4 linked regions of the Homo sapiens genome follow. The protein of the gene in region 1 purifies or fractionates together with the protein of each later gene. This does not show direct contact. Each region holds a gene or a part of one and is shown in the gene's direction. Other genes may lie near its edges.

What was found. Proteins that work in one complex are often made in the same cells at the same time.
Region 2: the proteins of CYTH4 (region 1) and PROX1 purify together in Homo sapiens (affinity purification with mass spectrometry; one large-scale study listed by BioGRID and IntAct). This does not show direct contact.
Region 3: the proteins of CYTH4 (region 1) and FRMD4A purify together in Homo sapiens (affinity purification with mass spectrometry; one large-scale study listed by BioGRID and IntAct). This does not show direct contact.
Region 4: the proteins of CYTH4 (region 1) and OFD1 purify together in Homo sapiens (affinity purification with mass spectrometry; one large-scale study listed by BioGRID and IntAct). This does not show direct contact.

The regions. Positions count from the first base shown.
Region 1 is NC_000022.11:37,303,008-37,306,507, forward strand, and holds part of CYTH4 (cytohesin-4), read left to right. Parts: intron 1-246; coding exon 247-395; intron 396-3,500. UniProt on the Homo sapiens protein: Promotes guanine-nucleotide exchange on ARF1 and ARF5. Promotes the activation of ARF factors through replacement of GDP with GTP.
Region 2 is NC_000001.11:213,990,973-213,994,472, forward strand, and holds part of PROX1 (prospero homeobox protein 1), read left to right. Parts: exon of another isoform or gene 1-2; intron 3-3,500. UniProt on the Homo sapiens protein: Transcription factor involved in developmental processes such as cell fate determination, gene transcriptional regulation and progenitor cell regulation in a number of organs.
Region 3 is NC_000010.11:13,662,925-13,666,424, reverse strand, and holds part of FRMD4A (FERM domain-containing protein 4A), read left to right. Parts: intron 1-99; coding exon 100-328; intron 329-2,915; coding exon 2,916-2,972; intron 2,973-3,500. UniProt on the Homo sapiens protein: Scaffolding protein that regulates epithelial cell polarity by connecting ARF6 activation with the PAR3 complex. Plays a redundant role with FRMD4B in epithelial polarization. May regulate MAPT secretion by activating ARF6-signaling.
Region 4 is NC_000023.11:13,758,748-13,762,247, forward strand, and holds part of OFD1 (centriole and centriolar satellite protein OFD1), read left to right. Parts: intron 1-1,367; coding exon 1,368-1,973; intron 1,974-2,337; coding exon 2,338-2,464; intron 2,465-3,500. UniProt on the Homo sapiens protein: Component of the centrioles controlling mother and daughter centrioles length. Recruits to the centriole IFT88 and centriole distal appendage-specific proteins including CEP164. Involved in the biogenesis of the cilium, a centriole-associated function.

The DNA.
Region 1 (3,500 bases):
GGATCCAGCAGGAGCGTACGCGCGGAGGTAGGAAGGGGCTCAGAAAAAGAGGCTGAGGTTAGTTTAAGAGGGGGTGGGGACCAGCAAGAGTGGGAAGGGAGAGGAGGCTGGGCCTCAAAGCCCAAGCCAGGAGGACAAGGTGGACCTTCGGGGCCTTGCAATGGCAGTTCTGGGCCCTGGAAGGGGCCGGGACAGAGGCAGGGAGAGTGGCCAGGGCCAGAACTGTGACCGCTGTCCCCTCCGCAGACACCTGCTACGTGTTGTCCTTCTCCATCATCATGCTCAACACCAGCCTCCACAATCCCAACGTCCGGGACAGGCCGCCTTTTGAGCGCTTTGTGTCCATGAACCGCGGCATCAACAATGGTAGCGACCTGCCCGAGGACCAGCTGCGGGTGAGAGAGGCGCAGCCCACCCAGCCTGGCCCCGGGGAATCCAGGAGGGACCTGTCCTTAGATGGATGGCCCGGGAGGGGCTCCTCTGAGATAGACAGCCCCCAGTGGGGACTCTGCTGATATGGCCCACCCAGGCTGTGACTGTCTTGAGAGGCACCGTCACAAAGCGCATTGGTCCTGAAACCCGCCTGCCCAAAAGAGGCCCCCATCTTGAGAAGGATGTCCGAGATAGACCACCCAGGAGGTCCACCCAGATTTAAGCCTTTGGGGGACTCTAGGCAGCCATCTTTCACATCTTCCAAAAAGGGTACCTCACACAGCCCAGGTCTATTTCTTAGAATAGAGATTCTTAGACGCTCAGCATGTCAGGCCTGAAAACCCTCAGACTCTGCTCTAAGCCCTCTGTCCTTTAGAGAGGAGGAAACTGAGGTCTTCCACAAGGCCCTACTTGAGCTGGGCCCTACCAACCTCCGGTCGCTTCCTCAAATAGCCTGCACCCCTGCCACACCATGCCAGGCTCTGCGCCCAGCACAGGGGCCCCAGGGATGAATCAACCACATATGCTGCCCTGACCAAGTTCAGGGTCTGGTGGGAGGACTGTACACATGTGAATCACAAGGCTGCATGATTCATGCGGTGCTGGCTGTGGGGATGGAGCTCTGGAGACGCAGATCTGCTGTCACTGCGGCTGTCATTGCTCTGGGGGCAGGGAAGGGTGCCATCCTGGAAGTCTTCACAGAGGAGGTGACTTCTGAACTGGGCCTTGAAGGTTACATGGGAGTGCTCCCAGAGGAGAAGCCGGGAAAGGACATTTCAAAAAGAAGAAGTGGCCAGAACGGAGGCGTGTCCTGATTGGGAAAGGAGAGGTGTCCAGTGTGGCCGAGGTGTGGTATATATGCACAGTAGTGGGTGACAGGGTGGGGCCAGAGGGTCCAGGGCTTCCAATGACAGCCTCAGGAGTTTGCCTGTTTCCTATGGGCCACAGGGAGCCAGGGGGTATTCATAAGAACAGGAAGGAGAGATTCAGAGCCTGGCTTAGGAAAAATGAATGGACAAGTTCACTTCAAGGACTGAAGATTCCCCAGAGCCCCCTGAGCTTCAATCCCCTCCATGGTCAGAGCCCAGCAGGGAGGGGCAGAGGGGGCGCGAACACCACGGTCCCAGCTCAGCACCGAGTATACCTCCTGCCTCCAAGGCTGGGGTGGAGCCTGGATCTGGAATGATTCTGGTGCCCCTCGGTGTTTGAGAACTGCCTCACCCTTAACCCACCTCTTGCCTGGTCCCAAAAGGAGAAAGTACATCAGAGAGGAGCCACTCCGTAGCATGAGAGCTTGAGAGCTGGTTGGAGCTCAGGTCTACTCCCATCTTCCCCGTTTGCCTGCTAGGTGACCTTGGGCAATGACTCACTGGAGTTGAAGCCACTATCCCCTCTACCAGGAGAGTGGAGATAATAATACTTGCCACAGGGAGTAACTGTTTTAAATGTTACGGGCAGAGCCTGTGCCAGGTATATAATACCTGCCTCCTGCGTGGCTCCCCAGCTAAAGTAGGGCCTGTGGCCTAAGTCACTATTAAAAATAATTAATAATGAAAAAAGCCCCAGCATTTAGTAAAATGCCTGAAACATTTTAAACAGCATTTGAGCATTGGTGACTCATTTCATTTGGGGTCCTCGTGGTGCTATGCGGGCACACCTTGTCTGGCAGGGAATGAGTTAATTACCTCCCAGCACTGGTCCTGCCGCTCTCCCAGGTGCCACATTATTGCCTCTAGCTCCCAGTGAGCCCTCTTCAGCATCTCCCTCCTTAGCTGTTTTTCCCAATTCGAGCCTTTTGTTAATAACAATGCACTGCATTTGTATGGAACTTGTAAGTTTCTTCTCACCAGGCTTTGGGGTCTATTATCTCAATTTAGCTTCAAAATCTGCCCGGGAGGTTTAGGAAGCCCTTATTATCCTCTTTGGCAACCCAGAGAGGCAGACACAGACTAAGGGAAAGAACAGAGCGCTGGACTCAGAACCACCTCCAGTCCCGGCTACCCCACTTTCTGGTTGTGTGACTTTAGGAAAGTGGCTTGACCTCTCTGAGCCCCAGTTCATAGGATTAGTGCAGAAGTGTAAGGTATTCAGCCAAGTGCCTGGTGTAGTTGGAGTGGCTAATCAATCCTGAAGCTTCCCAGGTCAAAAAGAAACACACAGGCAGCTGCGTGGATGTGGGGATCCTCTTGCCTTCTGTCTGGGCCTCACTTTCCCCATATGTAAAGCAAGGATTCAGCTTTAAGCACCTTCAGATAGTCAAAGGTCAGCACTTTGCAGAAGGATTCTCCAGTTTGGGCCCATTAAGTGAGGAGGACATGTAATGCTTTTAAGTGGCCCAATTTGCAAAATTAAGTCTACACAGGTGTGACCCAAAGAGAGGTCACCTCAAGGGTACACAGACCATGAGGATGCGCAGCTGGGAAAGGCTGTGGAGAGGTGCACAGTGGTAGTCAGGGGACAGGAGGGTTGAGCCAACCTTGCTCTGGCCATCCAGATGGGGCAGGGGCAGAGTCCCCAAGAAGCTCAGGGTGAAGGCACAGTGAGTTCAGACTCACAGGGATGGGAGGTCAAATCCCAGCTCTGCCCTTATGTCTGTGTGACCTTGGACATGAGCCTCAGCTTCCTCATCTGCAAAGTGGGCTGATGATGCTGGCTTCATATTGTTTTCTGAGAAGCTGTCAGGCGCCTGGCACTTGGCAGGCCTTGAGAAAAGCTAGGAGAGGAACCACCCACCCTGAGGGCTGTGGGAGGGGGAGCTAGGGTGGAAGAGGCACAGGAGATAAGGGGACAAAGAACTCCACTCTCCGGTGTTACAGTTGGAGAAACTGAGGCCCAGGCAGAGTAACAGTCTCCCAGTTCCAGGCATCTTCTGCCATAGGCAGCCCTGCACCTCCTGGGTCCTTGCCCAGGCCTCTCGGTCAGAATGGACTGTGGATTGGACACAGTACTAAGTACTTTACGTTATTAAGTCATCCCGTCCCCAGTTTACAGCAGAGGACACTGAGCTCCATGAGAGGTAGCTGGCCAGAGGTCTCATAGTTTATGAGGAGTCCTGATTCAAACCCATG
Region 2 (3,500 bases), on another chromosome or scaffold:
AGGTAACTGTGCTTTTCTATTCTGATGCAAGATGTGAGAAGTCAGTTCTACAGGGAATTTCTTGCAAGAACTTCTGAGTATTTCCAAAATGAAATTTTTTGTGTGTGTTGAGGGAGGAAAACGAGAGTATTCACATTAACTTGTCCATGGGTTAAAACATGGACATGTATATGTAATAGTAAAATAGGTGAAGCTAAGGACTGTGGCTTGATGTGTGAGGAAAGTTGTTGGGAATTCAATGTAAGCACTATATCTGGCTTCTTAAAACTTGACCTTTTAAAATTATCTTTAAACAGACTACTTCTGTAGACTGAGTTGCACAGGAATAGGTTGGTTGGCAAATGGTTTTTGCTCATTGGCTTTGTGTTTGGGTAGTTATTGTTTCCATGAAAATGAGATCGTATGTGTCATTTATTCTGTAGACTTCAACATTAACGTCCCCCCACCTCCCAAACACACACACACACACCCAATACTTTCCTTGGATGCTTTTGAAGTTCTTTGGTAATTAAAATGTCATCTATGCCTATGTTCATTTGCTTTATTTTTAATAGGGGTTATCTGTGCTTGGCACTTATTGATATTTTATGTGTCCATTATGCAGAATTCTATTTAGTTTAATCACCACCTTGTGGGAAAAAAAAGTCATGCATACATAACATGCATCTTTGTTCTCACTTTATTCATTTCCTAGCATCATTCCTCTATAAGCAGCACATGCTATCTTAAAACCTAAGCTGGCTTATTCTGTAAGTTGCCAGACTTCCTCTTTATTTGTTTAAAACTCAAACAGGCCTCTTTTCATGAATGTCTTATATCATTTTAGGGATTGTCTTGAATTTGCAGTGTTAATATAAGAAGTTTTAGGTTTCAGATTAACAAAAGAAATTATAAAATGTGACTGATGTTATAATATGAAAATAGATTGTGCATGATGTATCATTATAGGATTTTAATTAAGTACCTGTGTAACTTGGAAAGGAACCATATACATAAGGAATTTCTCAGACTTATTGCCTGTGCATTCTCAAAGGACATTTAGAGAGTTCAATTTTCTGCAAAAAGAAAAAAGTGTATTTTCTTAAGATTATTTCACACTCTGTCTTATTTACCTATCTGATAAGTTGTTACTTTTTAAACAAGTAGAAATTAATATTTTAGGCATGTCTCAGAAAATGTTCTGTGTTCATTTTGCAGGTGAAAAGTGTGTGGAATTTTTGATGGGATGGGAGAATCTTAAATGAAATCTTAAATGATTTGAGAAGTATATTATGACAGGAAATTTAAAAACCTGATAACGCAATCTTAGTTAATTTAGGTATTAACTTATGTCAAGTGAGTTCTTCAAAATAAATATCAAAGGTTTTCTTAACCTGATAGGGAGCAGAAATATCTCCAATATCTCTGAAGAAAAAGTTGCTAATTAGCAGAAACAAATTCTTGAATGTAGTGAAGGGGACAATTTAATGATTCAGGGGCTACTTAAATCAGACCATCTGATTTTTCCCCTTTGAATCACTAATTTCCAGATTGATTTGAAATATTCTTTGTTAATGATATCCTATTTGAAATTTCATAACCAGGTTGACCCAAGTAGATTAGAGGCCCATACAAAGATGATTTTCTAAAAGAAGTCAAGTGTAGGCTTGCACAATTTCTTCAAATAATTTTATCAACAAAGACAGATCATCTAAATAATCCAAGCAGGAAACCATGCCAACCTTACACTCTCCCTGCCTCATAAAAGATTTGTCTGAACTATCTGGATAATTACCGTAATGAAACACTTCTTTGTCCAGAATCTGGACTCCAGATAGATGCAGTAAAAGTTGAATCCTCCTCCCCGAAATAACTTCTTTATTAAAGTAGAGCACTTAACCACTTTATACTTCACGCTGCAGTGTTCCTTTGAAATTCTTTACTGAAAATTCTTTCCTCCTAACCTTAAGTCATCAGTTTCCTTAGAATTTTGCATGTTAAAGAGAATGTCAGATAATTCAGATATTAAAGGAGACTCTTTTGGAGTAGTTAAAACCTGTTTTGATTATACCTGGATGTTTATTCTTCTAATATCTTTTTCTGGGAGGAATCTGCTATGTTAAGATATGCATTGTATAAGAATTACTAAAGCATTTGTGTAGGTTATATACGAAGTGATGCAACAAAATATTTAATGATGAAAAACTCTATATAGACTTTCACATTAATTAAAGAGGGGTTTACAGGAATAGAGTAAGTGTATCCGATCAATAATACATTTGGGTTCAAATTCTCATCAGTATTTTTCTGCATCCTTGCTGATTTGGACATCCACCAGTGTTGATCAAAAGCTTCATATTGCCTAGTGAAACTGAAAATTAATGTTAAAATGCAAATATGATATGCATCAATAATAATTGCAGGTGAAACATGATAGCTTAATACATATCTTGAGAAATAAAGGAGTTTAAAAAATATCAATGATAAAGTCATTCCATGGCTTCCTTTAAATTCTGAACTGGAATATCATGGAAGCACTTGGGAAATGTTTTTAAGAGATTTAATTTATATTATGGTAACGTAACAGTACATTTTCTTATGTGGTAAATATATTCATATAGATATCTTGTTTATGAAATGTGATGCTAATAAAGTGCTGTGTCAACCGGTTATTATTATTTAATCATGCCTATAGCTTCCATGGGTTATGGTTCCAGTGTGTGCTACCACTATACTTTTATTTCTAAATTAAATCTAAGCTATATGGAGAGATATATTTATTTGTGCCTATTAATATAATGCCTTGTCCTGGATTATATAATTTATCTTATTTTTCCCATTTGTTTTGTCTTATTTGTTATGTTCCAGCTGGACATTTTACAACAAGACCTAAAAGTATTTAAATTCTTTTAGCCCAAGACAGATACAAATCGTTATTTAATCTAAAAATGTTGACTGAAATAGAATTACAAAATTAGTTTAGTTTGGTGAATATCAAGGGAGTTATATCTTGTTCTTAACAGACTCCACAAGCATTTCTTTCCACCTTAGGAAGAGCACAGCCCTCCTCTTGGCTCCAGCATGGGGCAGGGATGCAGCTGTTGATACCTAGGCTAGATGAGAGGAAGTGCAGTTGACGCAGAGGTAAATGGCAGTTGGAAAAGGAAGGATGCCTGGGGATGACCTTGTGCTCATCAGCGACACCAGTCTGTCCTTTCCAAGCCTCTGTGGCAGAGCTGCTCTTCCCACAGCAAGGATGGCAGGAGGAAAGTCCAGTTTGGGTGTTAGGGTGAACAGGGAGAGAAAAAATACTGCAAAAAGTTTGTTTGACATTTTGATTGGAGATCCATGTGCTTTGCAGGTGATAGTCAAGAGAAAAGGATTTGCATACAAATAGAAAAGATGTAAAATTTAAAAATAAGGGCAATAAGCTCTATTTTGGGGAAGGTGATATACACACAGAAAAAAGTCTTCCTTGTAACCGCCCCCCATGCAAGTGTTTCTTTGATTAACAGAGCTTT
Region 3 (3,500 bases), on another chromosome or scaffold:
CCCATGGAACTGGACTTGCCTTGGGACAGGGGAGGGAAGGATGAGGGTCTCCCTGCTCAGCATCCCCAGTAACCCAAACCGGTGCTTTCCCTCCCACAGGAAGCTGAGCTGGAACGCCTGGAACGAGAGTTTGCCATTCAGTCCCAGATTACGGAGGCCGCCCGCCGCCTAGCCAGTGACCCCAACGTCAGCAAAAAACTGAAGAAACAAAGGAAAACCTCGTATCTGAATGCACTGAAGAAACTGCAGGAGATTGAAAATGCAATCAATGAGAACCGCATCAAGTCTGGGAAGAAACCCACCCAGAGGGCTTCGCTGATCATAGACGGTCAGTGCCAACCGGGCTGCCCCCACCCCACTCCCACGCCCGGGCCCCGGCAACCAGACGCCAGGTCCCACGAGTGGTCCCTGCACGACCTGAGCAGCTGCCTAACTGTCCGCTGCCTTCATTTGTCCATCCATAAAATGAAGCGAGTAAGGCCTGATCCCACATGAGAGAAACCAAGTGGACTCAGACACAGATGAAGGGATTGTACGAATCAAACTGTTGGTATCACTATTGGTTTCCTCCCTGGGAGAACCTGCAGCCAGGAGCTAGCATTCTTCTCAGCCCTTACTGTGAACTGAGCTGAGTTGACTGGGCTAGACCAGGCTCTGACACTCTCAGGGACCTGACCACCCCTACTCAAGTCTGGAAGGACAGGTGGGGCTGGGGTACACAGCAGCAGTGATCCCTGTCTTCGAGCGGCCCCCGCCAACCCACTGACCCCTATGCTGCCAGGGGCCTCCTATCCCAAGAGCTGAAGCTTGGGGAGACTGGACCATCTGATTATCTGGAACCCTGAGCTCCAGTCATGGGTTAGGAATTTGGGTGATGACCTTTGGTAAATTCTAGAAGGAAATCCCCCAAAATCCACCCACAAAGCATCAAGTCCCCTAAACTGTTAGAATCCTTCTTGTCTAAGTCAGTGAATTCTTGAAAATATATATCAAGCATTCTTTCCTCCTAAACACACATAAAGGTATGTGTGTTTAAAATACCTTTGCTCTAGAAAGACAGAAAGTAGAATAGTGGTTACTATAGGGGGCTTAGGGGACAGGGGAATGAGGAGTTACTGCTTGATAGATACCGAGTTTCAGTCTGGAAACATGAAAATATTATTCAAACAGAAGATGGATGGTGGTGACGGTTACGCAACAATGGGAATGTGCTTGATGCCAATGAACTGTACACTTAAAAATAGTTAAGCTGGGGCTGGGTGAGGTGGCTCACACCTGTAATCCCAGCACTTTGGGAGGCTGAGGCGGGCGGATCACCTGAGGTCGGGAGTTCAAGACCAGCTTGACCAAAGTGTTTCTACTAAAAATACAAAAATTAGCCAGGCGTGGTGGCGCATGCCTGTAATCCTAGCTATTCAGGAGGCTGAGGCAGGAGAATCGCTTGAACCTGGGAGGCAGAGGTTGCAGTGAGCTGAGATTGCGACATTGCACTCCAGCCTGGGCAACAAGAGCGAAACTCTATCTCAAACAAACAAACAAAAAAATAGTTAAGCTGGGCATGTTGGCATGCACCTATAGTCCCAGCTACTCAGGAGGCTGAGGCAGAAGGATTACTTGAGCCAGAGGTTTGAGACTGTAGTCCACTATGATTATACCTGTGAGTAACCATGCGTGCCAGTCTGGGCAATATAGCAAGACTCATCTCTGAAAAAAAAAAAAATGTTAACATGGTAAATGTGATGTTATATATATTTCACCACAATTACATAGATAGATAAATATAGATAGATGCAGATTTGCAGCCTAAACTCGTGAGCATCCTAGCGTAGCAGTGATGTGCTGAAGATTCCAAGATGCCGAAGTCAGAGCTCCTGGTTGCTCATAGTCCATCATGCAACATAAATAAAGTGAATTTCTAGTTAAAAAGAGAATTTTTTAAAATTCTTTTGCTCTAGGAAATTTGGAATGACCATCTTTCCCTATCTCATCCTGTTGTCCTTGGCCAAGACCACACAACTTTTCCCCTACCTCCTAGTAAAGCTCCCTCAGCCAACCTCTTTCTGACACTCCATTTGAGACCCTCTGCCCCCTCCAAGGCACTTAGGGGTTCCCAACAGAAACATGTTTCCTATAGAAACATCCAAGGACCCACTTGAACTAGAGGAGTAATTAAGGTTCTTGCTAGTTCCTTAGCGTATTATTTTAGAGATAAAACACCAAACTTGGAATCTGAAGACTTGGGACCTTTGCTCACATTGCTGGAGAGCAAAACCACCTCGGACAAACCACTCTTCCCTTCCTACCCCTCAGTTTCCCCAGCAGTGAAACAGGGAGGATTATTTTACCATCTCCCTTTTGGGTGTGTTCTCCCGGTTAATTGAATGGCATCTATAAAAATAAGCTTTGGAGAGATGGAGCCTGTATTTAGCACGCTTGTTTTCTCTACTAATGACTTACAAAGTTTATTGAGAAGCCATTTATTGCCACAGAAGCAAAGCAAAGTGCCTACCCTGGTTTCGCATTTGTAGAATCAAAAGCAGTTTGCGTCCTTTGGTTTTGCTGGTACACGCCCTGGGTTTGTGCAGGGACAATGATGTGGTTTAATCAGGCTGGGGCAGCCTTTATATTCGGTATGAAGCCACTCTGCATTGCAGTATTCTATGAAACCGGGGCACAAACACACAAAGGCTAGGGCACATGGGCACATGGCAGTGTCGGGGTGGGGAGGCTGAGCCAATGACCCACCACGGGGACTGACAAAAGAAACACCCAACAGCATTTTTATTGTATCTGGTGGGTTGTTTCTGGTTAGGAAGAGAAAGGTATGAGGTGGTAGTAGACATGCTATTTTTACAGATAGGGCTTTGCTGAAGGAATGTGCTGAACTCATAGGCTATTGCTTTTTGTCTTCTCAGATGGAAACATTGCCAGTGAAGACAGCTCCCTCTCAGATGCCCTTGTTCTTGAGGATGGTAGGTTTATGCATTTCCTGCTTACAAACCTACAGCTCAGAGTAAACAGAGATGAATTTCTATGTAGTCTGGGGATTGCCTTGTGTAAAGGCAAGAGCCAGGCCAAAAGGCAGCTGGGCTCCCTGCAAGCTCTCTCATTTCCCAGTATTCACCTCTTTGGTTGGGAGTGGGTAGGTGCTGCATAAACCCATGTGTATTAGAGCTTTTCATCAGTGAGTGGTGCTTTACTTTTTTAGAAGCCAAAAACTTTTTTTTTTTTTTTTGAGACAGGGTCTCACACTATTGCCCAGGCTGGAGTGCAGTGGTATGATCTCGGCTCACTACAACCTCTGCCTCCTAGGCTCAAGTGATTCTTCCACCTCAGCCTCCCTAGTAGCTGGGACTACAGCATGCCACCACACCTGGCAATTTTTGTATTTTTTTGTAGAGACTGGGTTTGCCATGTTGCTCCTGGGTTCAAGCGACCCACCCACCTCGGCCTCCCAAAGTGCTGGGAGGATTACAGGCAGGAGCCACCATACCTGGCCC
Region 4 (3,500 bases), on another chromosome or scaffold:
GTTACCCCAATGTTAACACCAATTCAGTAGTTTTACGGATTCCTTGATAGATATATAAATATACAGGACAAGCAGGGTGGTTTAGCAAAAAGAATATTGCCTTCAGAATCAGAACTGTTCTTCTTTTGGACCCGTTTTGAAGTTGTTTGACCTTGGGCATGTTACTTTAACTTCCTTGGGCCTCAGTCTCCTCATTTGTAATGGGGATAATAATACCTACTGAGCCATGATGAAAAAGATGAAATGGGTTTCAGTCCAGTGCCTGGGACATAAAAGACACTCAGGAAATGGTTATTGGTATCATTTTATTATTGTGTCTTCACTGTGGATGCATCTCTGCCCCTTCCTACTTCGTAAGAAGGATATTAAAGTTCAGATACTTTATTCTTCAGTTGCTTTCAAGTTCAAAGAAAGTACGTATGTGTTACCAGTTCAACTGGGTCTGAGCCTTCCTTGTTCCCACCTGCATTGTTTCCTCATCAGCTCCTTGCTCTCTTCTACCAGCACTTGTTTTATTTTTATCTCTACTCGTTTCTGCTTTTTTCTGTTCCTCATTTTCTTTCAGTTCTGTTTGTGAAACTTCTCACAGCTGAAATCATAGCAGTCTCCTATCAATAAAAAATAGTTGAATGAGGATAGAACTCTTTCGCATGCATGTGTTGCCGAGGGCAAGCTTCTTTCTTGTAGCATCACGGGGAGGCATTGCAGGAGAGAGGGGCAGGTGCACTGGCTTTGCATTAGGAAAGCCCAGTAGCTCTTAGACTTGCTAACCGTGTGACCCAGCCTCAGTAAGCTTTAGTCCCCCCATCTGTAAAATGGGAGCAGTGAGAGTTTCTTGACCACAGTGTTGTTGTGAATGCAGGTCCTCACTTCCTTATATGAAACTCGGGCCATATGCTGTGGATTTCGCAATAGCCCTGGGAGTTCTGAACAGCATCCTATAGTAAAGCACATTAATTATTTTGCAGTCAACTGTATGAATATTCATGCTGGGATAAATAAAGATTATAAATGGGTTTACATCAGTTCAGGTCAAACTTTTCAACCAAATGAGTTCAAGTCTGGTTGGGCTTTGCCACCAAATAAATTATGAATAAATTTTCAGTTCTCAGAGCCTTGTGGCTTTCAAAATTGTGCATAATGGATTCTGAAATTATATCATGTTACAAAAGACATACAAAGCTGTAGCTGGTACAATAAGCTCTCAGTAAATGTTAGTGGTTATCGTTACCATGGCTTCAGAAACTGTATAGTGCAAGTTTGTCCTTATTACTCTCTTCCATTTTTCAAAAAAATAATATTCTCAAGTATATTTTCTTCTCTGCCTTGTCCACTTACTTCTGAAATTGGCTTTTTGTACCCTGCAGCCCTAGAGAATGAAGTGTACTGCAATCCAAAGCAGTCTGTGATCGATCGTTCTGTCAATGGATTAATAAATGGCAATGTGGTGCCTTGCAATGGTGAGATAAGTGGGGATTTCTTGAACAATCCTTTTAAACAGGAAAACGTTCTAGCACGTATGGTTGCATCAAGGATCACAAATTATCCAACTGCATGGGTGGAGGGTAGTTCCCCTGATTCTGACCTTGAGTTTGTAGCCAATACTAAGGCAAGGGTCAAAGAGCTTCAGCAAGAGGCCGAACGCTTGGAAAAGGCTTTCAGAAGTTACCATCGGAGAGTCATTAAAAACTCTGCCAAAAGCCCACTAGCAGCAAAGAGCCCACCATCTCTGCACTTGCTGGAAGCCTTCAAAAACATTACTTCCAGTTCCCCGGAAAGACATATTTTTGGAGAGGACAGAGTTGTCTCTGAGCAGCCTCAAGTGGGCACACTTGAAGAAAGGAATGACGTCGTGGAAGCACTGACAGGCAGTGCAGCCTCGAGGCTCCGCGGGGGCACTTCCTCCAGACGCCTCTCTTCCACACCCCTTCCAAAAGCAAAAAGAAGCCTCGAAAGTGAAATGTATCTGGAAGGTAAGCCACCCGCACAAAGGGTTGCGGGGTGCTCTGGAGTTGGGTAGCCACCCTGCCCACGACACAGGGTTGCCGTGAGGGTCAGCGGGCCAGAGTGGCAAGGTCTAGTGTTTGGCACACAGAGCTGTTTAGAGAGTGATAGTTGCCTTGCCTTTGCTGCCTGTTGGTTTCCTGCATTTTATTATTGCCACTGCAATTTAATTTAGGTGCTTGAATCATTAGTTTTCTGGATCTTATGCATCATAATTGGCTATTTGTGAGGATAACAGTTTATTTTCAAACTAGTAGAGCTCTTTAGAAACCACGTTGGTATCTTCTCCGTGCAATTGGTAATATTCTTGCCTTGGTTCTTTCTGCACCTTAGGTCTGGGCAGATCACACATTGCTTCCCCCAGTCCTTGTCCTGACAGAATGCCCCTACCATCACCCACTGAGTCTAGGCACAGCCTCTCCATCCCTCCTGTCTCCAGCCCTCCGGAGCAGAAAGTGGGGTAAGTATAACGTTCTGATTGATTAGCTTCAGCTGAATAATGTTACTTGCTCTGTCAGCCTTCACTTGTTTTACTGGGATTTTTTTTTTTTGAGATAATTATTATAGATCATGTGGCAGTATAGAATTTGCAATCAGATTGCAAAATGATATGTCATCTTTGAGAATCATCTAAATTACCTGGAGGGAAAAAGATTGCTTTTAGCAAATAAGTGGATAATGCTTATTTGCTAAACTTGATATATGGACCATGCAATCTGGTATTAATAAGCATCTTCCTAGTTCTGTGAATAGATTTGGTTTATTAAGATAAAAAACAAATGTACAAAATCTGAAAGCAAACAAATGGAGGTTATTTATAAAGTTGGAACAATTTTACACATCATTAAAAAGTCATTTTTAAAATATTTTGGCATTGAAATATAAACAGATAAGGTTCTGACCTGCATATCATTGAAATAAATTCAAACGTGGTAGCAGGCTCTGGTGTATGATTGTTGAAACAGGAAGGAGTGGATGTTTTTAGAAACTAGTCCACTGGGTCAGCCAGGCTATGATTTGAGTCATGAGCAGACTCCTACCCATACCTGGGCCCCACAGCAGAGGGAACTGACTCCTTAGCTCCAGGCTCGATCTCGGGCATCTGCATGTTAATGTAGTTCTCTGCCACATGGGCCTGTCGTAGTCCTAAAGCTTTTTTTTTTTTTTTTTTTTTTTGTGATAAGCCAAAAGGAAGGATAAGACACACACATATGCTGAGTTAGGGCGCTTTGCTCACTCAAGGTTGTGGTGTTGCATCTTCATCTGGTTCATGCTGATAGTGTGCAGAATTTTTTTTCAGAAATGTTTTATGGTTATTTCCTAGGAATAGCATTCAGAGTACAACATTATTCTTTATTAACAACTGTAGTACCTACTTCACAGCATGAAATAGTTACAAGGAGTAACTGATTAAACAGGTATTAATTGCTGAGAACAATGCCTAGTGGTGGTGGTGAGGTGGAGCTATTTACAAGACAAAGAGAAAGGGAATTTTG